Linked DNA regions of Homo sapiens. The protein of the gene in region 4 interacts with the protein of the main gene of each other region in a biochemical or structural test. Each region holds a gene or a part of one and is shown on either strand. Other genes may lie near its edges.

What was found.
Region 1: the proteins of BMPR1B (region 4) and BAMBI form a complex in vitro, tested with the Homo sapiens proteins (one study listed by BioGRID).
Region 2: the proteins of BMPR1B (region 4) and BMP7 form a complex in vitro, tested with the Homo sapiens proteins (2 studies listed by BioGRID).
Region 3: the proteins of BMPR1B (region 4) and BMP4 form a complex in vitro, tested with the Homo sapiens proteins (one study listed by BioGRID).

The regions. Positions count from the first base shown.
Region 1 is NC_000010.11:28,673,201-28,680,533, forward strand, and holds the start of BAMBI (BMP and activin membrane-bound inhibitor homolog precursor), read left to right. Parts: upstream 1-4,320; 5' UTR 4,321-4,697; coding exon 4,698-4,773; intron 4,774-7,333. UniProt on the Homo sapiens protein: Negatively regulates TGF-beta signaling.
Region 2 is NC_000020.11:57,221,631-57,228,651, forward strand, and holds part of BMP7 (bone morphogenetic protein 7 preproprotein), read right to left. Parts: intron 6,792-7,021; coding exon 6,599-6,791; intron 1-6,598. UniProt on the Homo sapiens protein: Growth factor of the TGF-beta superfamily that plays important role in various biological processes, including embryogenesis, hematopoiesis, neurogenesis and skeletal morphogenesis.
Region 3 is NC_000014.9:53,953,808-53,961,415, reverse strand, and holds the start of BMP4 (bone morphogenetic protein 4 isoform a preproprotein), read left to right. Parts: upstream 1-4,590; 5' UTR 4,591-4,595; coding exon of another isoform or gene 4,596-4,657; 5' UTR 4,658-4,866; intron 4,867-5,087; coding exon of another isoform or gene 5,088-5,515; exon of another isoform or gene 5,516-7,234; intron 7,235-7,608. Other genes in the region: uncharacterized protein LOC124903317, read right to left, coding at 5,088-5,515.
Region 4 is NC_000004.12:94,753,669-94,760,971, forward strand, and holds the start of BMPR1B (bone morphogenetic protein receptor type-1B isoform b precursor), read left to right. Parts: upstream 1-4,286; 5' UTR 4,287-4,400; intron 4,401-7,303. UniProt on the Homo sapiens protein: On ligand binding, forms a receptor complex consisting of two type II and two type I transmembrane serine/threonine kinases.

The DNA.
Region 1 (7,333 bases), on a different chromosome or scaffold from region 4:
GAAATAAAATGCCAGCCAAACGTGCATATCTTCAAATATTTAATGCATTTTAACGAGATTTATGGACACAGGTTATGAAGAGAGTACACCCTAAGTGAGGTCATCAATGAACAGAATTCTTGTTCTTATCCTTGGTATTAAGGGAAGAACTTCTGATGCGCTTTTCTCAGATTGTATAATCTTCCTTTGTTCTATCTGGTCACCTAACAAATAAGCTCCTATTCTGCTATGAATCCCTTAAACACAAATAACTCTCTGATAAGATAGTCAAGCTCACACCTGTAATCCCAGCTACTTGGGAGGCTAAGGTGGGAGGGTCACTCGAGGCTAGAAGTTTGGGACCAGCCTGGGCAACATAAGGAGACTCTGTCTCAACAAAAAGTATAGAAATTAGCCCCATGCAGTGGGGAGCACCTTAGCTACTTGGGAGGCTGGGGCCAGTGGTTCGAGGCTACAGTGAGCTATGATTGCAGCGCTGTACTCCAGCCTGAGTAACAGAGGGAGGCCTTCGTCTCTAAAAAAGCAAAAAAAAGCAAGTAACTCTCTACTCTCCCATTCACAATTTAGTGCCATTTAGTTACATGTTTAGCCTATAATTTCAAAGACATCATTTAAAATCTTTAAAACATCTATACGGCCAGCATGGTGGCTCACACCTATAATCCCAGCACTTTTGGAGGCTCAGGCAGGAGGATTGCTTGAGCCCAGGAATTCTGAGACCAGCCTCAGTAACATAGGGAGACCACCATCTCTACAAAAAAATTAAAAAATTAGTCGGGCATGGTGGCTCGCGCCTATATATATACATATATATCTCCCATGGATAAATTATATCTTGAATGCTGTTTGAAGGTAATAAAAAACTATTCTACTGTTTAACGGTTTCAGTTAGGTCTAGAATCAGTTTTCTGTTCTTGGGTATAGAGAGCTTGTTCCTAGGTATTTTCGGAATCCCTTTGTAGATGTAAAAAGAATTTTGGTCGTTGATTTCATTTCTTGCTTTAAACTTCAAAAGGACAGTAGATTGTACTATTTTTTTTCCCTCTACTTATCAACCTACATGTAGGAAAGTAATAACTGAATTATGTGCAAAGCATAAGTAAAATTCTCTAGAGAAGCAATTTTCCTTAAGAATGTTAAATTGAATTAAAATTGTTGCCTATTCTCTCAACTATTGATATGGCCTTATGATTGACACATTATCCCTAAACTGATTTTGATATTCTACATTGATTCAAACACTCTGATTCATTTAGTTGAAAAGTCCATGTCTTCCCCAGAACCATTAGATAAAGTGCGGACTTGTTTCTCTTTAATTTCTGGTCATTTAGAAAGTTTGCCCATTAATAATAAAAACAAAATAGTTGAAATCATTGTCTAAAAAATGGATCCCAAGTTCTTATTCAGAATTGGACTTGGAACAAAAAAATATATACAACCTGGAGTGCTCAAAGTCAACATTAATTCAATAAAATACAAATATCTTAGTTTGGTTTCTTTGGGTTGCAAGGAAAAGAACCTTAAGTAAAAAGGGGACTTTATTAAGGTTACTGAATTAACCTAAGGACAAGAAGTGACGCTGAGTGCCTGGAAATCCATTTGGATTTATGTATTTGCCACTTTGCATATCTTCATTATTTTTCTTCCTCTGCAGACAGGTGGACTACAGCTGCCCCAAAGCAAAATTTTTATGTCTCCCGTGAAATGACCTCAAGGGACTGAGCAGCATGTCTGCTCAAAGACACAGAAGAGAGAATCTAACTGACCTAACCTGGGTCATGTGACTAGCTATGGCCAGAGATTAGGAGATCAGAGTCTCCTAATCAGGTTGCCAACGCCCACTCCGGGAAAAGGGACATTCTCTGACTTGGGCTGGGAGACACTCAGAAAGTGTCTACTAGAATGCAACTTTCACCAACACATTCCCCAGACCTCTTCCATTAAATATTTATCTGTATCAAAGGGAAGTATAGTTCATTTCTGATACGTCTCTGTTCACTTCTTCACATTTTATGCTGCAATCACAAAGACTTGCTTGTCATCCCAACTACCTGTTCGCTGCTTACCACTCCTACTCACCTACACAATCATATTTCATGCCTAAGTCCTGTGGTCCTCTGTGCTTGTAATGGTCTTCTTCCAATCCTTAATGTCATTGCTTCTAGACTTTACCGGCTCTCTTTACCTTCCTAGACTAGTTAACCTCTTTCTTTTAGGCATTGTAACATCATGCACATAAATCTCCATTATTGTCCAGCTCCATTGTTTTGAGATTTACTATCTAGTTTCTGACATCTTTATACCCCCAGACATTGCAAGCCTCGCCTACGGTGGGAGGCCAGGTTGAACTAACATACCCTGAAAGTTTCCTTTTAGCTAATAATTGACTCTAAAAGAGAGTGTAATCATTACATAAAAAGTATTGTCCTCTGGGCGCGGTGGCTCACGCCTGTAAATCCCAGCACTTTGGGAGGCCGAGGCGGGCGGATCACGAGGTCGGAAGTTCGAGAGCAGCCTGACCAACATGGCGAAACCTCGTCTCTATAAAAATACAGAAATTAGCCAGGCGTGGAGACAGGTGCCTGTAATCCCAGCTACTCAGGAGGCTGAGGCAGGAGAATGGCTTGAACCCGGGAGGCGGAAGGTTGCAGTGAGCCGAGATCGCGCCACTGTACTCCAGCCTGGGCGACAGTGCCAGACTCGTCTCAAAAAAAAAAAAAAAAAAAAAAAAAGTCTTGTCTGCATAAAACCCTTACAATTGTTAACTTGTCAAGGTTCTAGTAGCCAGGAAGTTCTAATCAAACTCGGCCCCAGGACTGCCTTGTCAGCACGCCCCTTGAGAAACTTTTCTGAGAAACCTGCTGTTTACCTGGTGCCCTAACCAGTTTAATTTTCTTTTAAAACTTCTACTGGATTTCTCCTTCTCTCCTTTTAGATGCAATTTTGATCTAGAGAAGTAATGGTCTGAGCATCAGTTTATGAAATTATTTTATTTTTCTGCACATAAACATTATTTTTCAAAGACAATTTCATTAACTACATCCTGCAGCTCTGCAGACTTTCAACAACTTTAAAAGGTTAGGCGTTTGAGATATGTTCGCCTTGACTTTCAGTCCTCAAGACATATGTACATTTTTCTTAGTCTCAAAGCTCATGTCTGCACTCTAGTCCTAAAGGATTTGTCTTTATAATTCTCACCTTAGCATGAAATGTGCTTCTCTTTCTTTCCTTCCCCACCCCCCACCCCCTTTTGACATATCCGGTAGGGAAGCTCTGGCAGATTCTCAAGAAGAATTTTGCAAATGGTCGACTTTTGTTCATCTCAGGTTTTGGAGGGAGAGGATAAAAGAACATTCCCTCAGATAATGAGTTTTAACCTTAATTCCTTCCAAAGCGGAGGGGGAAACAAAACTACAGCAAGACCACCTTGAGTACCTTGGGAAGGGCAGCCCCGCGATCCCTAATAAATGAATTAGCATCTCAAGGAGGAGATCACTGCGGGGCTGATATTGATCAGGGTCAGCCGGCGTGTTTGCCAGCCATTGTTTGGGGGGTGGTTAATTGAGTGTCAGTCTCGGCCAGTGTCGTCTCGTTGGCGCCGGGTGCTTTTGGATTTGCTAATTTTCGTTAAGTGTCTCTAGCCCGCTACTCGTCCCGCGTACCCGGGAGAACCTAGCGGCTCCTAACGGATCAACAGTCAGTCTGTCTGGGCTTTATTGATCCCATGGCGGGCAGCTCGAGGCGGACACGCTGAGGGGGTGGGGGGCGAAGGCTGAATGCAGACCCCAGCGCTGGGCCGCCTCCCCCGGGCTCCCACCCGAACCCTCCTCCGCCACCTGCACAGGCCGGGGCATTGTCACTCGCCCCTGGGGGTTCCAGAAAACGCAGTGCGGCCGGGGAGGACGACCACACGGACCCCCTGCGTGTTTCGGGGGGCACCCAAAAGAAGCCCCGCGCTGGGGAACGCTGACCACCCGAGGCTGAGCCGTCAGGGTCTCGGAGGCGGGTTCCCGAGCCGGTCCCGGGGCTGGGCTCCCCCGGCGCCTCGCGAAGGTCACTGACGCGCAGGCCTCCGCAAGGGGGAGCGCGGGAGACGGCAGCGCACCAGCCGGGCGCCCCAGCCGGGCGCCCCAGACGCCGGCGCCGCTCGGAGCCGCCGGGCAGGTCCCCCAGCGCTCGCGTCTGGGCCCGCCCCCCGCTGCGGGGCGGATTGACAGGAGCCCGGCGGCCAATCGGACGCCGTGGGGCGGGGCGAGGCGGGGCGGTGCAGGCCGGCTCCCGGCGCGGGGCGCTATTTACGGCGCGGAGCCGGAGAGACCTGGGCTGGCGCGGGCGGGAGCTGCGGCGGATACCCTTGCGTGCTGTGGAGACCCTACTCTCTTCGCTGAGAACGGCCGCTAGCGGGGACTGAAGGCCGGGAGCCCACTCCCGACCCGGGGCTAGCGTGCGTCCCTAGAGTCGAGCGGGGCAAGGGAGCCAGTGGCCGCCGACGGGGGACCGGGAAACTTTTCTGGGCTCCTGGGCGCGCCCTGTAGCCGCGCTCCATGCTCCGGCAGCGGCCCGAAACCCAGCCCCGCCGCTGACGGCGCCCGCCGCTCCGGGCAGGGCCCATGCCCTGCGCGCTCCGGGGGTCGTAGGCTGCCGCCGAGCCGGGGCTCCGGAAGCCGGCGGGGGCGCCGCGGCCGTGCGGGGCGTCAATGGATCGCCACTCCAGCTACATCTTCATCTGGCTGCAGCTGGAGCTCTGCGCCATGGCCGTGCTGCTCACCAAAGGTGGGTGCCGGGGGCGCACGGGGCCCGGGGTCCCGTCCTCGCCGCGGGGCTTTGGAGCCGGCTGCAGAGGCTTTGTTAGCGGCAGGCGAGGCTCCCTCCTGCGCCGGAGCCGCAGGTCGCGACAAGTTGCTGTGTTCTTAGAAGTCGCGGCGGTGGCCTGGCGCGTGGATGCGGACTCCGATCTAAGGGCAGGCGCTGATCAGAGGGTCCTCCTGGCTCTGCCTGCGGGGAGCGGCGCGTTTGCAGCCCAGCGGGGAGCGGGGCCGGAGTCTCGGCCTCGACGCCGCCGCTTCCGCACCCTGGGGGCTCGGGCGGCCGGGAGGAATCGCAGATCCTGGCCTGTAGCTGCCGCGTGCCCTCAGCGTGTCTGTGTGAGTGCCTCAGGGTGTATTTCTGTGAGTGTGTCTCTGAGTCTCAGTATCCCTAAATGCATTTTTGTGTCTCTGAGTGTCGTTGTGTTTCTGAAAGTGTGTCTGAACCTCTGTATCACTCAGCGTATCTCTGTGTCTCTTTGAATGTATCTCTGAATGCATTTCTGTGTCTCTTTCTGAGTCTTTGTGTCTCTGAATGTGTGAGTCTCTGTATCTCTGATCTTGAGTGTGTCTTTCTGAATGCATTTCTGTGTCTGTCTCTAAGTGTCTTTGTATCTCTGAATGTGCATCTGAGTCTCTGTGTGAGTGTGTCTCTGCGTACATCTCTCTGTGTGCGAGCGAGTGTGTGGGTCTCCCTGAGAGTTTAGGTGTCCGAGGTGTGCAGAAGTGTGTGTTGTGTTGCTTTTCAGCAGCCGGGAGGAGTAGGCTCTGTCAGCGTCTCACTGCCACTCACCTCATATTTTACAAACAGGACCAAAAAAAAAAAAAAGGCAGCGGGTCAGTTTCTTCTTTCCTCTGCAGGCTTTCACCTTTTAGAAAGAAATAACCCGAACTGTCTCCGAATTTCAAGGTTCTCCTCACCTCCCTGCTGTGAAATCTACCTACTGTTCTGTGAACAGATAATTTTTTTAAGTAGGAAGCAGTTTAGTCTTTGCAGCCCCCTACTTCTCTTTAATTGCTATGTAGCAGGCATGAGGTTAAAGCATAAGCTAGCCCAGCGAGGATGATGTGCTACAGTATTTATTTATTTTGGAAGGAAGGGTGTAATTAACCCTAAATAACAGCCCTTGTGGCTTGCAGAGGGGAGCCTCCTGGCCCTATCAAAGGCGGGCAGAACAGGGAGGGACTGAGGCTGACATGAAGTCACAGATACCGAAACTATGTGCCTGATAATGATATAATTAGGGGATCAGAGATTTCTGACGGCTGCGGACTTCAAAAGCTTTAAAAGAAGCCAGCAGTCTCTCCTGTAGCCATCTTGACTAAAGCAGACATTTTTGTTTAATCACTACATACAGTAACGAGAAGGGGACAGAAACAGAAGGGCATTGTTCCACAGTTTCAAAATACCAGTCCCCTTTCTGGCCTTTTGCATGCCACAGGAAGAAACTTTATGAACGACAGAAATATAGTTTTAATACAGTGGTACAAAAGTCCATTCTCCTTGCTTAAAATGTGGCTCCAATTAAAAAAAAAAGGTAGTTAGAACTTTCCCAGTTACCTGTCAAAATTTTATTAGGCTGTTTTTAGGTCATTGAAAATAGGCTCTCATAAACATTTAAGCAGCATTTTACTTGTATTCAGTCTTCCTTTTCTGTACAAGGTCTGAAGCTAATAGGGTCAAAATGGGCTTTTAATCTGTTTTATTTATACTTTAAATCTATATATGGAATTTGTCAAACTAGGGATATGTAGTCATCACCCCAGAAGACTGGTGAGCTTTATGTGGAAAATAAAGTGAGCTTGGAGGGAGGAGGAGAAAGAGCAGAGAAGTGGTTCTGCAAAGCAAGGTTCTTACTTGAAGCAGAGAAGGAACTTGGGCCCAACCAGTGCAGATTTAGGAGCAAGACCCCTAGCTTTGGACTGTTAAGGGTTGCCAAAGATCTGTGTTTAGCGGGCTGGTTTTCCTTAGAACCGAAGCATTAGCAGCGTCCGGTGAAAACTGAGCATACAATACCGTGGTCTGGAATTTGGACAGATAATTAAATGAGACACCTTACTGGGGCGTTCAGAGAGAGGGGGAAGAATAAAGGTAAGGGTGGGAAGAGGTTTGTAAAACAGCAGATCCCGGTGTTTAATTTCAGAGTGGAGGTTTCGGATCTTCAGACGGGAAACTGGAAGAGGCGTGTGCATTAGTTTAGTTTACTCGCTGTGGCATGTGACAGCGACCAGGGTCCACTAGGTGGATATTGTATTAGTGAGAACTTGAAGACCCAGATTATTTCAACGAGAAACTGATATTAAAGCCTCCAATCTTGCCCTGCGACAAAATGTGAACGGAGCCATGCAACTCACAAAATAAGTTTTTATAAAGGAAACTTTTAATCACTTCCTGTAGAAAATTTGAGGTTTCCTTAAGGATTTTTCATTCAACCAGCAGAGGATTTTCAGTTTCAGTGTTTCCCCTTTTAGATCACATGTCGAATTACATGTAAAACTTGTGAGGAGGAGGAGGAGAAGTTAGCCTT
Region 2 (7,021 bases), on a different chromosome or scaffold from region 4:
AGTGAGACCTCATCTCTACAAAAGTAAAAAACTAGCCAGACATAGTGGTGTGTTCCTATGGTCCTAGCTACTTGAGAGGCTCAGGTGGGACGATTGCTCCAACCCAGGAGGTCGAGGCTGCAGTGAGCTGTGATCACTCCACTGCACTCCAGCAGAGCAACAGAGCAAGACCCTATCTCTCAAAAAAAAAAAAAAAAAAAAAAAGAGGGGTGGGCAGGGATAAGGGTGTCTCCATGGGGGGTTGTTGTGGGAAGCAGTAAAGAGCCCCCATTGCATGCAATTAGCTTTTGTCATCATGACTGTTCCCAAAGGCAGCCATCCCTTCTCCCAGCATAGACAAGTGTCATGGGAGAGAGGAGGCTCCAAGATCGCATTGTGGACCCAGCTAAATCGATGGAAACGTAAAGAGAGCAGACCTTTCCCACAGGTGGTCTACAAGAGGGGCAGGACTGACCACCTCGTGGGGACACCCGCTCGGCTTCACTGAACGTGATATAACACCTACGGGGAATCAGGGAAAATGTGGGCAACCTGCTGAGCCCCCGCCCGCCGCAAACACTCAGCAAACGGAATCTGTTGCCATCGATTCCCAGCCACCACCCGTATGCTCCCTGTGAAGCCAGGCTCGGGATGAATTATGGGAAGAAATAACAGGGACAGAGATAAAAAAAAGCCACCAAGGCCCACCAGATGGCCTCAGGCCACAGGACAGGAAGCCAACGGGCATTTGGCCCCCAGATGCTGAGTAGGGGATACTGGCTGTGTCTCTGGCATTAACTGGATTGAACACAGTGGTTTGCCATCTCTGCCCAGCTGGGTGGCTTTTTCCAGAGGGATCCTTGCAGATCCATGAGAGGACCCCAAGCGGAACCAAAGGCATTAAGGGCCTGCCACTCCCTCTCAGGCAGCTTCAGTCTCGGTTCTGGAGTGAGGCCCAGAGAAAGGGACTGCGAGGAAAAATGCCAAGGCTCCTTGATGAGGGCTGCTCTCCTCTGACCTTCCAGGACATCCTGGAAGTTCCCAGCAGCCAAAAGGAATCCTCCTTGCCCTCTGAAAAGGCTACTCAGGAAGCTGACCTGGCACATCCTGAGAAGGCAGCTCAAAACCAGAACTCATGCCCTGGGGCTGAGGTGTAGTGGCAAGGGGTAGAAGCCAGGAGACGAGGAAACAGGCATGTAGCCTTCAGGAGCAGCAAGAAACTCCAGAGGCTTCTGGAAGCTTCCAGAAGCTTCCAGAAGCCTCTGGAGCCAGAGTCCAAAGGGATCTTCACCCTTAGCCAGTCCCTTTCCTGTGCCATTGAGACTGACAATTGTGGTCTGGACTACACTTTGGGCTCAGTCTCATGGGAAGAAGAACAGTCTTCTCTGAGACACCAAGCTGAAGGGAACATGGAATGTGTCACAGAAGGCCAATACATGGTGAAACCCCATCTCTACTAAAAATAAAAAAATCAGCCAGGCATGGTGGTACATACTTGTAATCCCAGCTACTTGGGAGGCTGAGGCAGGAGAATCACTTGAACTTGAGAGGTGGAGGTTGCAGTGAGCTGGGATCGTGCCACTGCACTCCAGCCTGGGCAACACAGTGAGACTCCATCTCAAAAAAAAAAAAAAAAGGAATCTCTTTCCTTCCTCTTGGGCATGTAAGACAGCTCATGGGTGAGAAATTAGAGAGATCTTAGCCACCTGTTCACACCCCAGCACACAGGGAATCACCTGGGAGCTTTTAAAGCACACCAATGACAGTTCAACCCCTACGGATCAGGAGTTTTAAAAGCCTCTGTGATTCTATTGCACAGCCAAGGCTGAAAACCAGCTCAGGACTCATCAATGGACCCATCTGAGCCCCAGGTGAGGGAATCAGCACTATGGGAATCACTGAGGCACGGCCATGGCTAAGATGGTGACTGCTGAAATCTAAGAGCCTGGGTTTGAGCCCCACCTCTGCCACTTTGTAGCTGTGTGCTTTTGGGCAAGTTACTTCCCACCTCTGAGCCAGGCTCCGCACCTGTAAAATGGGGATGATACATCTTCATAGGAACCTTTCCAAGGCATGAAACAAAGCTGAAGTGTCCAGCACAGTCATAAACAGTAAGCACCACGCAACAAGAAGCCTCAACCACAGGGTGGAGACATGCTCTGGAACGTGACCATGGCTCTCTGCCCAAACACGCTCATGGGGGCTAACGGCAGGGCAAAACCCGCCCAGAGTCTTGCTACCAAGTCATGAATCCGCACATCATAAGTTGCCACCACCCCAGCATCCCCAGGAGAGGACTGGGCAAGGAGCCCTTGGCCCACTGCCCGAGGGCCGCCCTGTGAGGGGGCTGCATCGTTCCTCCTACCACATCCAGCCCCACCTACCTTCTCAGGTTTATGGACCAAAATCATCACGGCGTCCCCAGGGAGCTTCTCAGAAAGGCAGAAACTCAGGGCCCCCATCCCAGGGCTAGTCGAGGGCAAGAGCCTCTGCCTGGGCTGAAGGGACCCAGGAAACTGAGCCCAGGCCTCCTCTGCCAATCCATCCTGTGTGGTGGGGACAGGCAGGGGGCAGCTCCCTCTTCCTCAGAGTGACTCAGGCTGCAGCTGATCCAAATCTTGGCCCTCGAGACCACGCTGAGGTCACCCTCCTGGCAGCCAAAATCACTGAGATGAACCCAGGGACATTTTCATCCAGCTGCCAACATCATCTCGACCTTGGTGGCGGCCGACTCCCTTGGAGCAGATTCTGCTGCCCTGGCTGGCCTTGGCCTCCCAGGGAGGTTCTCAGAGGCCAGCTCCCAAAGCAGAAGTGTGTCGCCTACATGTGGGGCAGCGCTGTGGAGTGGGGCAAGCCTGACACATGCTCAAGGAGAGACGGGGAAGACTGGGATGGAAGATGCCAGGTCCCAGCTCCACAGCAGAAACAGGGCAAACAGCACAACCCCTACCCCAAATATCCTCACCTTCACCTGGAACCAAAGTCTGCACCAATGGAGACAGGAGCAAGTCCAGCTCCTGGAAGCCAGGCCCCAGCTGGCCTGGCCTCAGGCCTGGGGTTCAGAAAATGAGGATAAGACTCCGATCCTTTCGCAGCCCCCTCTCACCCCAGCAAGGCCTCTGGAGCCAAGGCCACTGTCCCCAGACCTGCCTCTGAGCCCCCACTCGCTCCACAGCCCGCCAAGGGCGGCTCCAACATGTCTTTCCAGCTGTCTGGGGCCGCGCTTTAAGCAGAGCCGCAGGGCTATGGAAGGCCTCCAGCTCGGCTCATTATCGGAATTTAATCTGGATTCCGAGAGATCAAGAGGAGTCAGTGGAAAGTGACTCCCACAAGGGGAGAGACGCTGAGGCTGACCCAAAGCCGGCTAATCCTCGGCACCCCCGGGGCTTTCCTGGAGCTCAGGCACAGCTCGTCAGATGTCCCAGCCCTGCACAGCTGGGCAGCTGGCGGCACAGAGACAGAGGCAGCCACATGGCGGGGACAGCAGGGCAGGCTCTGGGCTCCCCCGGGCTGAGGTCTGCAGGAGGCCTTCAGCTGGAAGAAGCTGTGCGGGCCCAGGTTGGGGACATGCAACCAGGTTGGGGACATGCAAAGAAAAAGCCTATCTCTGAACAGGCGAGCTGGAGGAAGCGTGGGGGATTTGAAGAGCATTTGCAAGCTCAGGGCTTTGTTCCTACTGGAAGATTGCAGAATTAGGGGAATTGGCTCGGTGGACCTACATGGGAAGGCAGTGCCACAGCCACCACCCAGGGCTCTTGTCTTCCTAAAGAGGTCTTGCTCCACTTCCTGCTGTGATGATGATGATACTAACGCAGGTGACCATTTATTGAGCACTTCCTGTGTGTAAGACACTGTTGTAAGTATGTCACCCCCTTTCATCCACAGCACAACTCTGGGAGGGAGATTCAATTATTATCCCCATTTTACAGAGGGAAAAACTGAGGCTCTGAGAGATGACTCTTTCCCAAGGCCACATGGGTAGCTGGTGGCAGGATTTGAATCCATGCTCTTAATAGCTGGGGAATTACATCATAGGGGCATCTTGGTTCTAGGTTGAAAAACAAAACAACCTGTCCAGAAAAATGAATAAATAATATATTTTTTAAATTTAACCATTTAACTTCTGAAGAATGGAGGCTTTGCTGCAGGAGGCACAGGAAGAACATGTAGAAACCTAAAGAAAGCAGCTCCGTCTTGCCCTCCACTGCTTCTCACCCTATTCCCTTCCTTGCTCAATGCTCCCACCTGCCATGTCCTCTCCTCTGCTGGAACGTGAGCTTCCAGAGGGCAGGGACTCGTGTCTGGTTCGTTCTGGTCGATGCCCTCAGGCATGGCATGCAGCAGGTACCTGTGCTGAGGAGGGACTCAGTCACTCAGCAGCCCAGAAGCCCCCAGGAGCAGGACCCCAGCACTAGAATGGGCACCCCCAGCCCAAGTTGCCTGTTGCCGGCAGCCTGGCAGGGAGGACGCCTGGAACGCCCATCCCTCCTCCAAACACAGTGCTCAGGCCTGCTGCCCAACCCTGCAGCCCTCAGGATCCACCCCATGGATCTCAGGCAAGACAGCAGAGGCACCACAGACCATGATGGGACCAGGTGCCCACAAAGCCAGCAGGAAGGACCAAGAGCTGCCGGAGCTGAGTGGAGAATCCAGATAACAGCCTGGACACAGAGGCTGTGGTTTCATCCTAAGCAAGAAGCTCCCTGGCTGCTGGGAGTAGATGTCGATGTCACCTCCCAGGAGAGCTGCTCAGCAGTGTCTACCAAAGCCACCCATGTGTGGGCCCTCTGACCCCACAATTCTATCTCTAGAACTTTATCTGACTGATAGACATGAACACGTATGTCAGCGAGGGTACTTGCCCTGCGGCACCATCCATCATAGAACAGAGGAGCCAGCGTGCACACGTGAAACACAGCACAACCCAAGCCGTGGAACAGTGAGGTGACTCAGAGGATGAGGGCACCCCGTGTGAACCCCTGGAAAGGGCTGCCAAGGTTCATCATCCAACGATGAAAGCCAGAGGCAGGAGTGAGTGCACTGTGGGGTTCCACAGGTGAAAACAGCAACACAGATTCCTTCGCTGATTTCAGGAGACTCAAGAAACTGGCATCAGGGACCACCTCAGCAGGGGCTGGAAGCCTTCATTTTCACTGTGGTTCCTCTTCTTTCCTTTTGATTTTATACCATGAACATGTCTTGCCTACTCAAAAACTTTTTTTTTTTTTTTTTTTTGAGAAAGAGTCTCACTCTGTCACCCAGGCTGGAGTGCGGTGGCACCATCTCGGCTCACTGCAACCTTCTCCTCCTGGGTTCAAGCAATTCTCCTGCCTCAGCCTCCCAAGTAGCTGGGATTACAGGCGCCCGCCACCATGCCTGGCTAATTTTTCTATTTTTAGTAGAGACGGGGTTTCACCGTGTTGGCCAGGCTGGTCTCAAACTCCTGACCTCAAATGATCCACCTGCCTTGGCCTTCCAAAGTGCTGGGATTACAGGCGTGAGCTACCACACCCGGCCTAAAAACAAATTTTGGAAAGAAATATCTTTCATAAGCATGGGCTCCAGCTTTGCAAACCTGGGCTCACGTCCTAATGTGGCCACATTCTCTCTGGGTAGCCTCATTCTTTGGCTTCAGGTCACTTTAGTTCTCCTCATTTTACAGATAAGCCACCACTTCTGAAGGCTACTGTGAATATGAAACAAGATATCAAGTGCAAAACACTCTGGAAACGCTCAAGAACAGTTTTGTTTTCTTGGTACTTAGATGACCATCCCCACCCCCACCCCCCACCAGCACCAAATAGCAGTGCTTGGCAAACGTAGCTGTGATGGTTCTTCTGTCCCTGTCTATGGTAACAAGTCCCCTTTCTAGCTGAAGATGCTAAGCCTGCACATCACAAGGAGGTGCCCACACCACCTTTCTTCCATCAATTTCCCTGCCCAGTGGGGACGGTAGATGTCTGACAGCCTGCGGGGTCCAGCAACCCAGCCACTGAGTAATAGGACCTTGGTCATTTCTGCCTCGGGACTGTCTGAATAGAATGCACCTGCTAAATGTCCCAGCCCTTTTTCTTAGCCTCCTTACCTCTCACAAGACCTTGAAATTAATGGATCTCGATAAATTAAAGACTTTCAACACAAACGTTTGGTTTCTGACCTAGTGATTCTTGGAAGGCTAAGAGTTCTCTGTTTTTTTTGGTTTGGGTTTTTTTCTTCCCCTAACATTTTATTTTAGATGGCCACCTTAATTGGTTGCCTGACATCGTGCACTGGGTTTCAGAGTGAGAAACGGGAGAGAGGTAGCCCTTCAAAAATGTTTCTTCCCCTTCCCCTTTTCTTCTATGTCCCTTAGCACCCAGCCAGATCTAGACTGCCTATAAAAACCCACAAGGCACCACGCATCCCTGGGCTCCCTGGCCTTCTACTATTCCTGAATTTGTTGTCGGTCATGGTTTTAAGGAAGTGACATACACCATACACCTTCTTTAGAAGGGATAATCTGGTACAGGGCCTGGCACGTGGTTGTGCCAATCTGACCCATCCTCTGGCCCTCACCACCTTCTTCCTCTGCCCCCAGAGGAAACTCAGCACCTCTCCCAGATACCCGTATAGCACCCACCTGCCCAAGTGCTCCTGGAGCACCTGATAAACGCTGATCCGGAACGTCTCATTGTCGAAGCGTTCCCGGATGTAGTCCTTGTAGATCCGGAATTCGGCTGCCGTGACAGCTTCCCCTTCTGGGATCTTGGAAAGATCAAACCGGAACTCTCGATGGTGGTAGCGTGGGTGGAAGAATTCCTTGTCATGTTCCACTGGAAGAGGAAGAGAACACACACCAACACCGACAGCTCATTAGTGTCTGGGTTTCACTCTCTGGCTCTGAGTCCAAGCATCTTGCCTAAGCTAGATGGAGGCATGCCCATTGCCAGTGACCCCAGTGACAACTGCTCCTTCCTCACCAACACACTGTAGACTGGAGGGTCACAGGCTCAGACCCCATGGTCCCCATGGTCATCCTGAACGACAAGAGCATGATTCTGCA
Region 3 (7,608 bases), on a different chromosome or scaffold from region 4:
AGCTCCGCCTCCTGGGTTCACGCCATTCTCCTGCCTCAGCCTTCCGAGTAGCTGGGACTACAGGCGCCCGCCACCATGCCTGGCTAATTTTTTATATTTTTAGTTAAGATGGGTTTTCACCATGTTAGCCAGGATGGTCTCGATCTCCTGACCTCGGTATCCACCTGCCTTGGCCTCCCAAAGTGCTGGGATTACAGGTGTGAGCCACCGCACCTGGCTTGGATGTTAATATTGAAGGGTTTTTATAGAAAGGACCATATTCCAGAAAGTATCAAGGCAGCAATTTAAAACATAGGGAACTGAAATAGCATTGGATTTTCTTTTTGTCATGAGAAAATATCAGCATCCAGTATTATTTACTTTGAGTGAGGCATATCAAAGGTTGGCAACAATATTAAATGTTTAGAGAAGGAACAACTTGTGCAATTGGGTTAAAAGTTCATCTTTAGATCAGAATAAAGAAAATGAGTTTATGTTTTAGCTTGAGGGACAGGAAAAAAAATTCTTAAAAGTTAGAGGTGTTAGGAATCCGCAAAACAGACGGAGAATGCTTTTTGGACATGTCATTCAGTCTCAGCCTATTAGTAAAAACTAATTGCTCAGAGTAGGTATGATTTTGACAGTGAGTAGTTATCTTGGCACAGCTATGTTCATGGGTCAGATCTATATAGACAAAGCATAATGAGTGGACATTGGAGATTAAGCAATTTGACTGTGATTTTAACTACCAGGATATATTGTCTCTGTATTCCAGAGCCTGAGAAAGACCTGTGAGGACCCTGTTCAAGCTCCACATTTTACAATGAGGAAACTTGGACCCAGCAGAGATAATGAGCTCCTTTCTCAAGATCATAACCTTTTTCTCAGGAAAGGTCACATAAAAGTCTTGCCCTAAGGCGGGCTTATATAGTAACGTCAGGAAGAAACAAACTTCTAGGTCTTGATTTTGTTTTGTTATCTAAGAACTTGGGAAGATATCCTGAAATTCCTGGTAATAGCATGCTGCCAGGATGGAGCAGCAGCTGGTGCCTTGGCCTGGGGAAAGCTTCCAGGATAAGCCTCGGGGATCCATCCACAATACCCCTCACTTGCCCAGGGAGAGGAGACAGACTGACATGGTTTGGACTTGGGGTCCACCACTTTCTAGCTTTGTGACCTTGAGCAACTTACATAACGTCTCTAAACTTCAGATTCTCATCTGTAGGACAGGGATTTTATAAGGGTTGTTGTAAGGGCTAGAGATATATAGGGCAAATATATAAGATATGATAAATATTAATAAGAGGAAAACTAAATTTCTAGCCAATTTCAGAGACCACTTCCAATTCCAATTCGAATTCGAATTCCAATTCCAATTGATCTATCTTACTGCTTCTCAAAACTTAGCAGTGATTCTGGGAATTCCTTCCGTAGCTTCACCAGACACCTAATTGGCCAAGAAGGTTTGAAGACCTGATGTGGTTCTTAATTGGGGATGGGGAATTAAGGGCTACTGTATCTATAGGATTATCTTTTCACTTGCATAGACCTATTTGGTGTGTTCAGGGCATAGTGATACTATAATTGCCATATTTAACAGTTTATAAAGTTCAAGCCCAGCATATTCTTTGCCTGTTTAATGATGTCTTGGTATCAGCCTTTTAATGGTACTTATCAGCATAGAAAATGGAAACAAAATAACTTTTAAAACAGTAGCTCTCAAGCTTTAGTGTGCTCAGAATGACCAGAGAACCTTGTGAAATATACAGATTTCTGGGTCCAGATCTGGGGCAGGACCAGGAAGTCTGCATTTCATCTGCACCCCCACCCTACTCTGAGGCTTATAGTCCTGAGAACATGCTTTGAAAAAGGCTGTCCCAAGGGCTCGCAGACAGGCTATTGACCAGCTACTCTTTCTTGATGTTCTCCAGGAAAAACCCAACAAAGGAATGCCTTTCATTGAGTAGTAGCAGCATAGGAGCAATAGTTGCTCCTGAATTATGGTGGGTTTCCCCTCTTCATCAATGTGCTTTAAGGGTACAGTTTCATTTGGTCTATCTACCATGTTCTATAAAAACATGAAAATTCACAGGTAAGTTTGAGATACAGAAAATAACTAAACTGATTCTTCTCACGAACTCTGATCACTAGGCTGTGGTTGATTTAGCTCTCTAACCAACAAGTAATTTGTTCTTTGGCATGAGTAAGGGGGGAAAAGGAGGAGTGGGTAAAAGCAGCTGATAACAGATGGCTTGCGCCCATCTAAAATGTGGGGAGAGAAATAAAGCTGTCCCAAGAGAACTAAAGCTGAGTTCTCTCGTCATATATCTGAAGATTCATATCAGGGGTCTAAACATGGTATGTCGGGTAGCTTAATTGGAAACTCCTGGACTGTGAGTGTCACAGACTCATGGATGGGCCAATCAGTGGCCACTTTAGTGTCTGGGCTGCAGCAAAATGAGACAATAGCTGTCATTCAAAAACCTTTGGAATTAAAAAAACCCCGAAATGACATTGGTGCTTTAAAGTAAAATAAAGTCCTGCCTTTAAGTCCAGCATATCACTGTTGTTTCTGAGTTTAAATATTAAGAACCACATTTCGTTAATGATTAAAACAACAGTGATTGATTTAGGGGCTCAGTGAGCATTTAATCTGTCCTGACTTCAGGTACCATGCTAAAGGAGCACAATGCCTGATGCTGCAGGAGAAACATTAGGTAACTATTTAATGGAGTTTTAATTTTCTGTTATTATTTTTAATAATTAATTGTGATTTTGACTATTTGGAAGCTACAGGTATATTTTGTCCTCCTTTTGGGGTGGTGTTATTGCCCTGCCCTGTTTTAATCAGTGGTTCTTAGAGAAAGTGAACTCAGGAGTGACTTAAAATGAAGGAAGACGGACTTTGGCTAAAATTACAATTAAATAATCAAATCATTTTCAAATATAAAGGGAGCATGCAGATGATCTGGCCCAATCCTTTCATTCTGCAGATGAGAAAACTGAGACTCATAGGAATGAAAAGACTTGCCCAAAGCCATACAGCTTGTTTCTGTTGTTTGGTGCATTAGGCCAAAAGACCTAGGCCTAATAGATGGAAAAGATGGCAGGATGTCTTGGCCTTGCTCTGACAGTTGCTTCTCTGATCTCAGATATTTCCCACCCTTTGTAATCTGTGTTCCACACAGGAAGTAGTTCTTGTTTTTTAAATATCGAAGGTGTATAAACGTAAAGTTTTTATAGATGAGCCACCCAGGGCCAATATCTGTTTAAGTAAAGACCTAAATGCTTTGCAGAGACAGTAAAGTGTCATGTCTGTCCCAGGGAAAGAAATCCAGGACAGGAAATGCTCAGTCTTCCAGCACTCCTCTGGCTACCTGGAGCTCAGGCTATGAGCCTCAACCCCTCCCTGAAGCATTAGCTCTGGAGCAGAGGCTGTGATTTACTTCAGAGATCTGGGCAAGTCCCTTTAACCTGGTAGTCCTGCCTTTCCTTGTTTGTAAAACAGAGAGATGAGGCTGATAGCTCCCTCACAGCTCCATCAGAGGCAGTGTGTGAAATTAGTTCCTGTTTGGGAAGGTTTAAAAGCCACCACATTCCACCTCCCTGCTAATATGATTACTAAAATGTTTTTATATGAAAGGGCCAATTCCTCATCTCCCCTCTTCCTTTAAAAACAGACCAAGGGGCATCTTTTCTTGTCTCCCTGTGGCCTAAAAGGTTACTGCTTCTGTGGTTATCTCCTTGGAAAGACAGAGTGTCAGGACTCTTAGGTACACCAAAAATGAACAAAAAAATCAACAACAACCATAACACCAACAAAAATAACTGCTGTGTCGGTTCTTAAGACGGCTTCTGAGCTAGAAACAGATTTTTCTAACTGTAAAAAACGTGGCCCCAGCCTGTCTGCAGGCCACCTCTGTCTTTAGGCCTTGGGGGGAGGAGGGAAGTGAGCTCATTTACTGGGGTCTACCTCAGGGTCATCACCAAGGTGTTCTACAAAACGCACTTTAAGAATGTTTTGGAAGGAAATTCACCTTTTAACAGCCCAAGAGGTATCTCTCTCTGGCACACAGTTCTGCACACAGCCTGTTTCTCAACGTTTGGAAATCTTTTAACAGTTTATGGAAGGCCACCTTTTAAACCGATCCAACAGCTCCTTTCTCCATAACCTGATTTTAGAGGTGTTTCATTATCTCTAATTACTCAGGGTAAATGGTGATTACTCAGTGTTTTAATCATCAGTTTGGGCAGCAGTTACACTAAACTCAGGGAAGCCCAGACTCCCATGGGTATTTTTGGAAGGTACGGCGACTAGTCGGTGCATGCTTTCTAGTACCTCCGCACGTGGTCCCCAGGTGAGCCCCAGCCGCTTCCCAGAGCTGGAGGCAGCGGCGTCCCAGCTCCGACGGCAGCTGCGGACTCGGGCGCTGCCTGGGCTTCCGGGACCCGGGCCTGCTAGGCGAGGTCGGGCGGCTGGAGGGGAGGATGTGGGCGGGGCTCCCATCCCCAGAAAGGGAGGCGAGCGAGGGAGGAGGGAAGGAGGGAGGGGCCGCCGGGGAAGAGGAGGAGGAAGGAAAGAAAGAAAGCGAGGGAGGGAAAGAGGAGGAAGGAAGATGCGAGAAGGCAGAGGAGGAGGGAGGGAGGGAAGGAGCGCGGAGCCCGGCCCGGAAGCTAGGTGAGTGTGGCATCCGAGCTGAGGGACGCGAGCCTGAGACGCCGCTGCTGCTCCGGCTGAGTATCTAGCTTGTCTCCCCGATGGGATTCCCGTCCAAGCTATCTCGAGCCTGCAGCGCCACAGTCCCCGGCCCTCGCCCAGGTTCACTGCAACCGTTCAGAGGTCCCCAGGAGCTGCTGCTGGCGAGCCCGCTACTGCAGGGACCTATGGTGAGCAAGGCTACCTGGTGAGGGGAGACAGGCAGAGGGGGTCTAGGAGCCTCCTTGGGGGGAAGAAGCTGGTCACAGGCTGTGACCGAGGCAAAAGGTGGCCTAATTATTTTCCAATAGTGGTGCTGGAGGTGGGGATGCTGGCGCTGAAAGACCTTTAAATATCGGCTACTGCCCCTGCCCAGGCCTTCTCTGTCCAGCAGTCCCTGGGAGATTCTCACCTTTGGGAAGTGCGGGGCAGGAGAGCAGAAACAAGAGAAGCCCTTGGTAGGGGGGTCGTTGGGAAAAACTGTGGGGTCTTGGGCTGAACGCGTTGCCCACGGGCTGGAGGTTGCGATCCCCGGACGGAAAGCGCGGGAGGAGGAAGGAGAGAACCGGCTCTGAGGTCCAGAGAGAGTGAGGGGGCAGAGCGACGGCGAGATGGGGAGAGAACACCTAGCTGGAGCAGGTTCTGCGGTAGAGAGCGCAGTCCTGCTGGCCTCTGGAGAGTGCGCGCCGCTCCGGAGGCTGCGTCGAGGGGAGTGTCACCCAATCTGGCCCCCAGCTGGCGGGGCGCCCTGAGAGCTTGCGAACTGCAGTTGCAGGACGCGCCTTCTCCACGAGCTATTTTCGTCGACTTGCGGAACCCAAGGAACCTCGCCTCTATCATTTCACGGTGTAGGGTCCCTAGAGACGACAGCCAAGATCCCAGGGGCTCCCAGGACGCTTGTTCCTGCGGTGTCGTGTCCTATGGGGAGTTCCTGGCGGGACGAAAGGCGGACGCGCGGCTCTTCCTGGCCCTCCAGGCCCGGAACCGACGGGAAAGGTTCCCGTGATTCCCGAGTCCCTGCAGGCTTCTTCCAGCGGGAGTTGGTCCGGGGGCCTTAGAGGCCTCCAAGCACTGCTTTGGAGGATGGTTTCCAAGGATCGCGGTTTGTGAGTTGAAGGCTTTGTGAGAGGTTAAACCCCCAAAAGATACATACTTGGTAAACTGAGGCTACCTGTAAACACATTTCGGCATTAGGAGAAGATTCGAGTAGGGAAGTGAAGGACAACCACCCCGAGTTACATTCCTTTCCCCCAATAAAAAGCTCTGGGGATGAAAGTTCTTTTGGCTTTTATCTTTTCGATTTAAAAATTTGAGAAGAAAAATGTGACTAGAGATGAATCCTGGTGAATCCGAAATTGAAACACAACTCCCCCTTCCCCTTCCTATCCTCTCGGTTTTAGAACCGCGCTCTCCCGCCCCAGGAGATTCCTTGGGGCCGAGGGTTTTCCGGGGAACCCGGGCGCCCGCCCCTTCTACTGTCCCTTTGCCCCGCGGGCACAGCTTGCCTCCGTCTGCTTTCTCTACTTCTGGACCTCTCCTCGCCGGGCTTTTTAAAGGGCTTCTGCGTCTCAAAACAAAACAAAAAAACCCTTTGCTCTTCCCAACCCTTTCGCAGCCCGCCCCAGCGGTGGCGCGGGACCAGCAAAGGCGAAAGCCGCGCGGCTCTTGCCGGGCGCGGACGGTCGCGCAGGGGCGCCCGCGGCCTCCGCACCCGGACCTGAGGTGTTGGTCGACTCCGGGCATCCACGGTCGGGAGGGAGGGCTGAGCTGTTCGATCCTTTACTTTTCTTCCTCAAAGTCTACCTGCCAATGCCCCTAAGAAGAAAACCAAGTATGTGCGTGGAGAGTGGGGCGGCAGGCAACCCGAGTTCTTGAGCTCCGGAGCGACCCAAAGCAGCAACTGGGAACAGCCTCAGGAAAGGGAGGTCGGGTGGAGTGGGCTTTGGGGCAGGAGTCATGGGGCCCGGGCCCCGGGGACGACCTGGCGCTCCCGGCCCTGCTGAACGCTGAGTTGCGCCTAGTCGGGTTTTCGAAGAGGCCCTTGCGCAGAGCGACCCACGCGCGCGGCAGCATCTTCGATTAGTCAGGACATCCCAGTAACTGCTTGAACTGTAGGTAGGTAAAATTCTTGAAGGAGTATTTGCTGCGTGCGACTCTGCTGCTGGTGCAACGGAGGAAGGGGGTGGGGGAAGGAAGTGGCGGGGGAAGGAGTGTGGTGGTGGTTTAAAAAATAAGGGAAGCCGAGGCGAGAGAGACGCAGACGCAGAGGTCGAGCGCAGGCCGAAAGCTGTTCACCGTTTTCTCGACTCCGGGGAACATGGTGGGATTTCCTTTCTGCGCCGGGTCGGGAGTTGTAAAACCTCGGCCACATTAAGATCTGAAAACTGTGATGCGTCCTTTCTGCAGCGACGCCTCTTTCTGAATCTGCCCGGAGCTTCGAGCCCCGGCGTCTGTCCCTCAGCCTGGCATGGCTTCTTCGGGGGTCTGCTTTGCATGGGGAGAGGGGCCACGCAGCGGCGGACTAGGTTTGGGGATTCTCGGTAATGGACCCGGAGCAATGACTAACAGCCGCTCCCTCTCACTTTCCCACAGCGATCACCCTCTAACACCCTCCCTCCCATTCCCGGCCCCGCGCGTGACAAGGTCGGCTGCTTTCAGCCGGGAGCTAGATCGGTGGCCCGGCTCTTCGGAGCCTTAGCAGGCGTTCGCCAAGGGGTGACTGGCTGTCATTGGGAGCAATATTTGGCCTTGAGGAGACCCTGGGGAGGAAGTGGCGGGGAGCTCGTGTTTGCTTGTGTGTGTGTGGGGGGGTGTGTGTGTACACGCGCGTGGGCAGGGTCCCTCTGCGCTTTCCTTTTTAAGTGCCTCTCGGTGGTGAGGCTTTGGGCGGGTGAGACTTTCCCGACCTCGCTCCCGGCCCCACTTAAGCCGGG
Region 4 (7,303 bases):
CATGGCCGTGGGAATGTTATCTAACTTCTCTGTGCCTTGCTTTCCTCAGTTGTAAAATGGAAATAAAATAATACCTTATTATGAGGCCTCAGGTTGATAATAAATGTGAGCTACTTAGTAGTGTGCCTGTATCATGGTAACCACTCCATAAATGTGGCTTTTATTATGGAAGGTACACATTTCACCAAGTTATTATATTAACAAGCAAAAATTTAAATACTCTGTTTGTTGAGAGGCTTAACCACTTATTTTGTATATGTAGAGTCAACATGTAGCAGTGGACAATAAGACAACCACAGCAGTAGGAACAGAAGAGCAAGAAAAAGATCTCTTTCTTACACTGAAAAATATTTCCTTCACCTGATTCCTAAAATACCATACCTGAAAAGAGGCAGACTTTTATTCCACAATTAGAGAGAAATAGTTTAAAAGCACATGTTCTAGAATGTTACTTAGCATTGTATGCCTTGATTTATGACAATATATTAATGGTGGTCAAATCCTTTACCTTCAGTTTTGAGAGAAGAGGGGGGTGGAAAAGGAAAGTGGTAGGAGTGAGGATATCCATGAAGAGGAAGGAGAAGGGGAGGCTGACAGCATAGAAGCAAGCTGTGTCCCCAGGTCTGTCCTATTTCTCTACTTATAAATTCCCCAAATAGTTCAATTCCAGTGGGCCTGGGCAAATGTCTTTCTTAATGGGAAATATGCCTGCAAGTGTTTGAGAGTCCTATATACACTGCCCTGGTTTCCTTATGTAGAAGCAGAGGGGAAAAAAATCTTGCTTTTGCTAAAATTTGTCATGCACCCAATGAAGCCCCTCCTTTCTATTCTTCTCCCCCCAGTGGTCTCTATTTACTTATTTATTTATTTAGATATGGTGTGGGCATGTGGGGGTCTCACTATGTTGCTCAGGCTGGTCTTGAACTCAAGGGATCCTCCCACCTCTGCCTCTGAGTATCTGTGACTACATGCATATGCCACCACATCTGGCTCCTATGGCCTTTAAAGGCACCAAAATCCAAGGCTACAGTTAGCAATATAGGAAGTGTCTTTTGAGTCTGCTGTCTTGGTAGTTACACCATTGTCTTGGTTCAAGTATTCCTTCTTTCAATGACAGACCCTTAATTAGTTTTGTGCTTTCATTTCTCCCTCTCCAGGTACCTCTAAATGATCTCCTGAAAATCCCAGTCCACCATTTGACTCCGTGGCTTACAAATCTCCAGTGCTTCTCCATTACCTAATAAGGAAAAAATCAATTTCATTAGTATGTTTGAGAAGGTTATTTCTGAACCCTGCTTAGCCTAAGAGAGTCATCTGCTGCACCTTCTCCTCATCACTTGGATAGCAGCACTGAGATACCAGCTGTTCTCTAAACACGCCATGCTTTTTCATAGGGTTCTCCTTGCTTAGGATGTTTATTCTCTTTCTAGCCCCGCTTTGATCTCTAAAGATCCTTCAGGACCCTTATGAAATGTGACTACTCTAGGAAGGTTTTCCTGAGATTTCTAGGCAGAATAGTTCATTTTTCTATGCTCCAAAAATTGTGTGTTCATGCATTAATGCACTTCTCATAGAAAGTTCTATATATTTTTTAAGTATCTTGTTTCTTCTGTATTATGAGTTTCAAGAAGGAATGGACAGAGTTTGCCTCTCAAATACCAGGACTTGGTTTGTCATAGGCACTCAAAAATGTTGATTTTTGAATAGCTTCTTTCCAAGGCTCCCCATTCCTGCTTACAGAAATGTTACCATCTAAGGCCCACCTCAAACACAGTTTCCCCTGTACCCCATTTTCTCCCACCTGGAGTGCTTTTTTTTTTTCATCCCAAAGACCTACAGGAATTTCCTTTGTTCTCTGATTTGGAATTTTAAAAAATATATTTAAACAAGGTATTTAAAAAAATCTGTCTCCTTGTCTGCAAGTTGATTGAAGTGGAATCTGTGTCTTCTCTATCCAGAGATGCCTGTATTCCCTGAATCAGTATCTTATACCCAGCAGATTCTCTGAAGGATATTTGCTGAATGGAGGAGTTAAGCCAAGGAAAGATAATCCTTAGTGCAACTTCTGAAAAGATACAGGTGACAATACCACTAGCTCCAAAACATTCTGCATAATGTCTGCTTTATTTCACTGCAGTTTATGAGTGCTCCAATTCTAAGGGAGATTATACAGCTGTCAAATACAAATTATCAGTAATTCACACAGTAGAAAGGATAGATTCAATCAGGTTTCTTTCCTCTTTAAACTTGCTTAATGTTGATGAGATATTGACAATGATCAACACATTACATTTTTAGTTCTATGGATTTCCAGTAAATTCTCTAAGCTTTTCTATGTATACAATCATAAGCTCTGTAATGAATTATAATTTGGTATCTTATTTTCAATATTTAAAACTCATATTTCTAAACTCACATTTCATTTTCGATAATTTATTATTTTTAGTTAATTACATAATAGCTCATAATTCCTTGCTTTGTCTTTTATTTTAATGGTGTAGAAGTTATAATTTCCGTGTCTTCAAGCCCCCTTCTCCCCACAAAACACTTAGTTAATATGAGGATGGAGATGATGAAAAATTGGATTGAGGACCAGGTAGAAGGTAATTTAGGTAGTCATATGCTTTATTGTTTTGAAAGAAAGGAGGTGGAAAAGGGAAGGGGTGGGAGTGAGGGTATCAGAGAAGAATTGGGATGAGAGTAAAATGAATGGATTTTATCTTGGAATTCTTGGGGCAAGAGGATGAGTACTGGTACTGGGGACTGGAACAGTGGTTGAATAAGGAAGGTCAGATGATGTCAATGACTAATTTCACTTGTTTTGGAAATTTTCTTTCAGATACCTTTCTTCTTCCAGTTTGGCATTAGAAATCACAATGCAGATATATCATGGGGCAAAAAGACCTTTGTGGAGACTCTAACATTGCTTTTATAGAAAAAACATGACCACATCTTCATACACTCAATAAACACTGGGGGCACCGCCTGCTTTAAGTGCAAGCTGCATAAAATAAATTGATACACAAATGAATTTTTTATTGATAAGTGCAAAAAGATTACATTTAATGTTTAAAAAAGATTTAATAGAAACAATTTAAGAAAAGGGAGTAGTTGAAAGAAAATAGTAGGCTAAGAATTGAATATAGAAATAGATATGAAGAAAATTGGAAGAAAGTTACTTCAGGGTGAAAAACTGTTAAAAAAAAAAATGACTTAGATCACACACTTGGTGGTGACCAGAGACTGTTTGTCAATATTTTGGAGGAAAAAAATTTTACAGAAGGAGAAAATAAGTAATGCTGGAGAGTGGGAAGCTGAAAGGTATTGAAAGGAAAAGAGTATTTGGAAGTCACGAGATATCTCCCTGGGAAATAGAGTTGGCAAAATGGCTGATTTTAAAGAGGTTAACTATTCTCCCCAAATTTCTGACTGTGAACTAGCTTACTTTATATTTACCCACTTAGAAAGTGTTTCAACACTTAAAGACTTAGCAAGGAGACCACAAAGTATAAGACGTTACATACTTTTCCAAAAGAAACACGACTAACTGTAAACTGTCATCAAATACAAATGGAATGGGTTTTCTCTTTTGGGTTTTATTTTTTTATTTTTAATTTTTTGGTGGTTGTTTTCGTTTAACGGTTTCAAAAAATATGTAGAAGGGAAATATTTCATTTCCCTTGGACGCTCAACTGTATATATTTCAAGATTCTTAAAACCCCCACCTCAAACTGCAGGCTTAATTTTAATGTGTTCATTTTTTACAAGGTGTGTCAACGTTTTATCAATTTCTGAAAAGTGTCTATGGCCCCGAAAAGTTGAAATCCACGACATTATATCATCTCTGCGAGCCCTTTCCAGCTCTCAAGGTACAATAATTCCACGAATCTTTGTTCTTCAAACCAGGAGGTTTTCTGGAAACCTTCTTAAACAACCAGGACAGGACCCATGAGGGAAATCTTGGGGATGCTCTGAGCAGCGGACGGGGCTTGGGAAGCGCACCCCTGTACCCGGGCTGCCTCCGGCCCGCACCCCGCCGCTCCCCAAGTCGGCTCCGCACTCCGCACACAGGCGGCGGCGCTGGGGCCGCTCCAAGTGCGTTGAGAAGTGTAATCCCTCCGCTAAGTACTTGGCTCTCAGTCTCCAATCACTAGTGGGAGCTGGAGAGGGCAAGTGAAAAAAAAAAATTCCAGAGGCAGCCGAGGAGCGAGAGGGAAAAAAAAAAAAAAAAAAAAAAAAAGTCCCGCGGTGGCGGCGGCGGCGGCGGCGGAGCGGCCGCGGCGGCCAGAAGTTGACGGCGCAGCCGGGCGCGGGGCGCGGAGTCGGCGGGGCCTCGCGGGACGCCGGGCAGTGCGGAGACCGCGGCGCTGAGGACGCGGGAGCCGGGAGCGCAGCCGCGGGTAAGGCGCGCGCGGCGGGGCCCCGTCCCCTGCGGGTGGCCGAGTTCCCGAGCGCGCGGGAGGCGGCCGAGCCGGCGAGAGCCGGGCAGAGCGAGGGGCGGCGCGGGACGGGTAGCGGCTGGGTGCGGAGCTGGGCGGCGGTCGCCCTAGGCAGGACGGAGCGCGCGAGGGAGAGGGCGAGAGCGAGGGCGGGCTGCGCGGCCGTGGGGCGGTGGCGGCGGCGGGGAGGGGGTCAGGCGGTGGCCGCCTCGGCTTTGTGCGCGGGCGGCTCTGCCGGGACCCCGAGGCCTCGTGCCTGCGCAGGCGAGGAGTCGGGGCAGCGGCGGCGGCGGGCGGGACACGTGCTTCGGGCTGTAGGGACGCCCCAAGGCAGGGAGTCGGACCTGCGAGCGGAGGGATGGGGCGGGAGGGCGAGCTGAGGGCAGTCGCGGAATCCGGGAAATGGGAGGGAGCCCGGCGGGGCGGGGGCCCAGGGCCAGCCCAGGCGGGACCCGCAGGCACCCACCTGCCCCGGACGCCTCCCGAGACCCAGCCTTGCCGTGGGGGAAAGTGCGCAGCGGGCTGGTCCCGGCGCCTTGGACTGGGCTCCGTCTCTGCTTCAGTTGCCTGTCTCTTCTCCTCTCTCTCCTGCTTCTCTCTCTCTATGCCTCTCTCTCAAGTTCTGGGTCTTTCATTCTCTCCCTTTTCTTCCTTTCTCCCTTCCTCTCCTTATTGCTATCCTTTGCCTCTCCCCCCGGTCTCTCTTTCCTTCCGTGCGTCTGTCTCCCTCTCCCCACCGCCTGCTCTGGCTCTCCCAGTGTGTCCCTCCTCTGTCCCTTCATCCTCTTCCCTCTGTCACTTTCGCACAATCTTTTGGTCTCTCTCTCTCTCTCAAGAGGCTTTCGCTCCCGGTCTTCCTGGCTCCCCTGTCTCTTGCTCTCTGCGCCCATCTCTCTGCTCGTCCCTCTTTCTGTCCAGGCTCCGTGTTTCCGCCTGTGTTTGGCGGTGTTGGAGAAGAGCCTCTGGAAGTTGTCCGCTGTGGTGCGGGTCTTACTTCTTTAGAGCTGCACCCCTCCAGCTGGGTCCTGCTGTTTGTTCTGAATGGAAACGCTGCAGTTCCCTTGAGTTATTAGAAACTGCTCTTTTCTTAGCCACCTTTCCAGCAAGGTGAGGTCAGTGACTACGAGCGGCCACAAAGGTGCCAGTGAAAGACAACGGAGGAAGAGAGCCGTTTCACTACCTCCAACAGATAAAGAAAATGTGTTAATACCAAACTTACCTGCAGCAAAGCAGAGCCACCTGAGAAAAGGTTCTTGAGTTCTGCAAAGAAACATAAAAGGCTCCACTGGAAATGAGAGGGTTCAGCTAAAAAGTGTTTGCAAATAATTTGAAAAAGCACTTAATGGAAATCTCTTGCTGTGCTAAATTGATGCCAACGAATCTCTGTTTTCTTACATATATTTTTAGGATTCCAGTGACAACTCTCCTAATTATTGTTTTGGGCAAGTTATGGGAAATGTCCTGTGTCAACTGGGATGTTAGTATTTAAGAAAATATTCAGTCTTTGTACTTTATACCCCTTTACACTCTAGTGATCAAGAAGAATTATTTCTAGCTGTAAAGAAAATAGTAAAGGATTCGTCAGTAATTTTAAAACATGAGACATGCCGGTGATCAATAATGTTTTTGGAAAACTTTCATTATAAGGATGTTTTGAAGGATGTTACATCTTAGTGAAATATGTAAGTTATTACACACTTAGATCATTGTGCAATGCAAAAAAGTTTGTGTTATAAGCAGATCATAGTAGTGATGTCTTTTTATGGGAAACATAGCTGGGAAATTAATTGCTCTGATTTTCACTGTTTTCTTTAGTCATGCATAATGTACCTTTGTGTTTAGCAAAATATGGCCTAGAGCTACAAAACTTGATACAGTGTGTTATTTGTCCAATCTGAATTACCATTTAGAAAACCACCTTTTCCTTTTAGTTACATGATATAAGTTGATATGATCTCATTACTCATGTGCTAGGGGCCGCTGATGAATTTTAATGGCACTGATTTGTGTTTTTAAATCAAAATGTTAGTTTTTGGTGAGTTAAAATCTTGATTTATGTCATGTTAGTGAATCATCACTATTTATAGGGGCTTTGCCACCTTGTCTGCCAGGTGCTGCCCAGCATTTAGTCTAGGCTAGGTTGTCTGAAATTCCCTGTTAGATTATTGTCCCTGAGTGACGTGCTGCCACGGCCTGCTTATGTATGTTTCTCTAAATGTTCCAGTCGTTAAATAATATTTATTAAAAGGAAATTGACTTAAATTTTTCCTCATAAGCTTTGGGAACTGTGTGAGATGGCCTGATAAAGTATTTTTATTACAGTAAATGCTGATTTATTATTATTTGTTTAAAAGTATAAGGCAGTTTAAAATGTGCTTATCTTTTGCCACATATAGCACCTCCTCCAGCTCTTTCTGAGCACTCAAATCGTATTTATCATCCAAATCTAAAGTCAGTTGTCACCTACTCCAACCTAGCAGAGCCTTCCTGATTTTCAGAAGCCCCCTCACCACTGCCTCTGCCTCTCAGGCTTCTGAGTGCCCCTCTTTCGGTGTCCACCTCTGTGCTGTATGGTTACTTGCTTGGCGCTTCCTTGTTGGACTGTTATCTCATTGAGGTGAGATAGTGTCCCTTGTTTCTTTTTCTCTGAATTTCAGATGCCCAGCACAGTACCTGGTATGTGATAGATACTCAAGAAATCCTTGTAGGACGATTGGTTCTTTTCCAAATTACCTCTAACTTGTGATACTGATTCTTTGTGGATGCAGTAGCTCAAGGAAAATACTTAAGAATAGTGTAATAGCAGATCATAGACTTAGGATTGAAAGAGTCTTAGCATGTCATCACACACATTAATAATATTA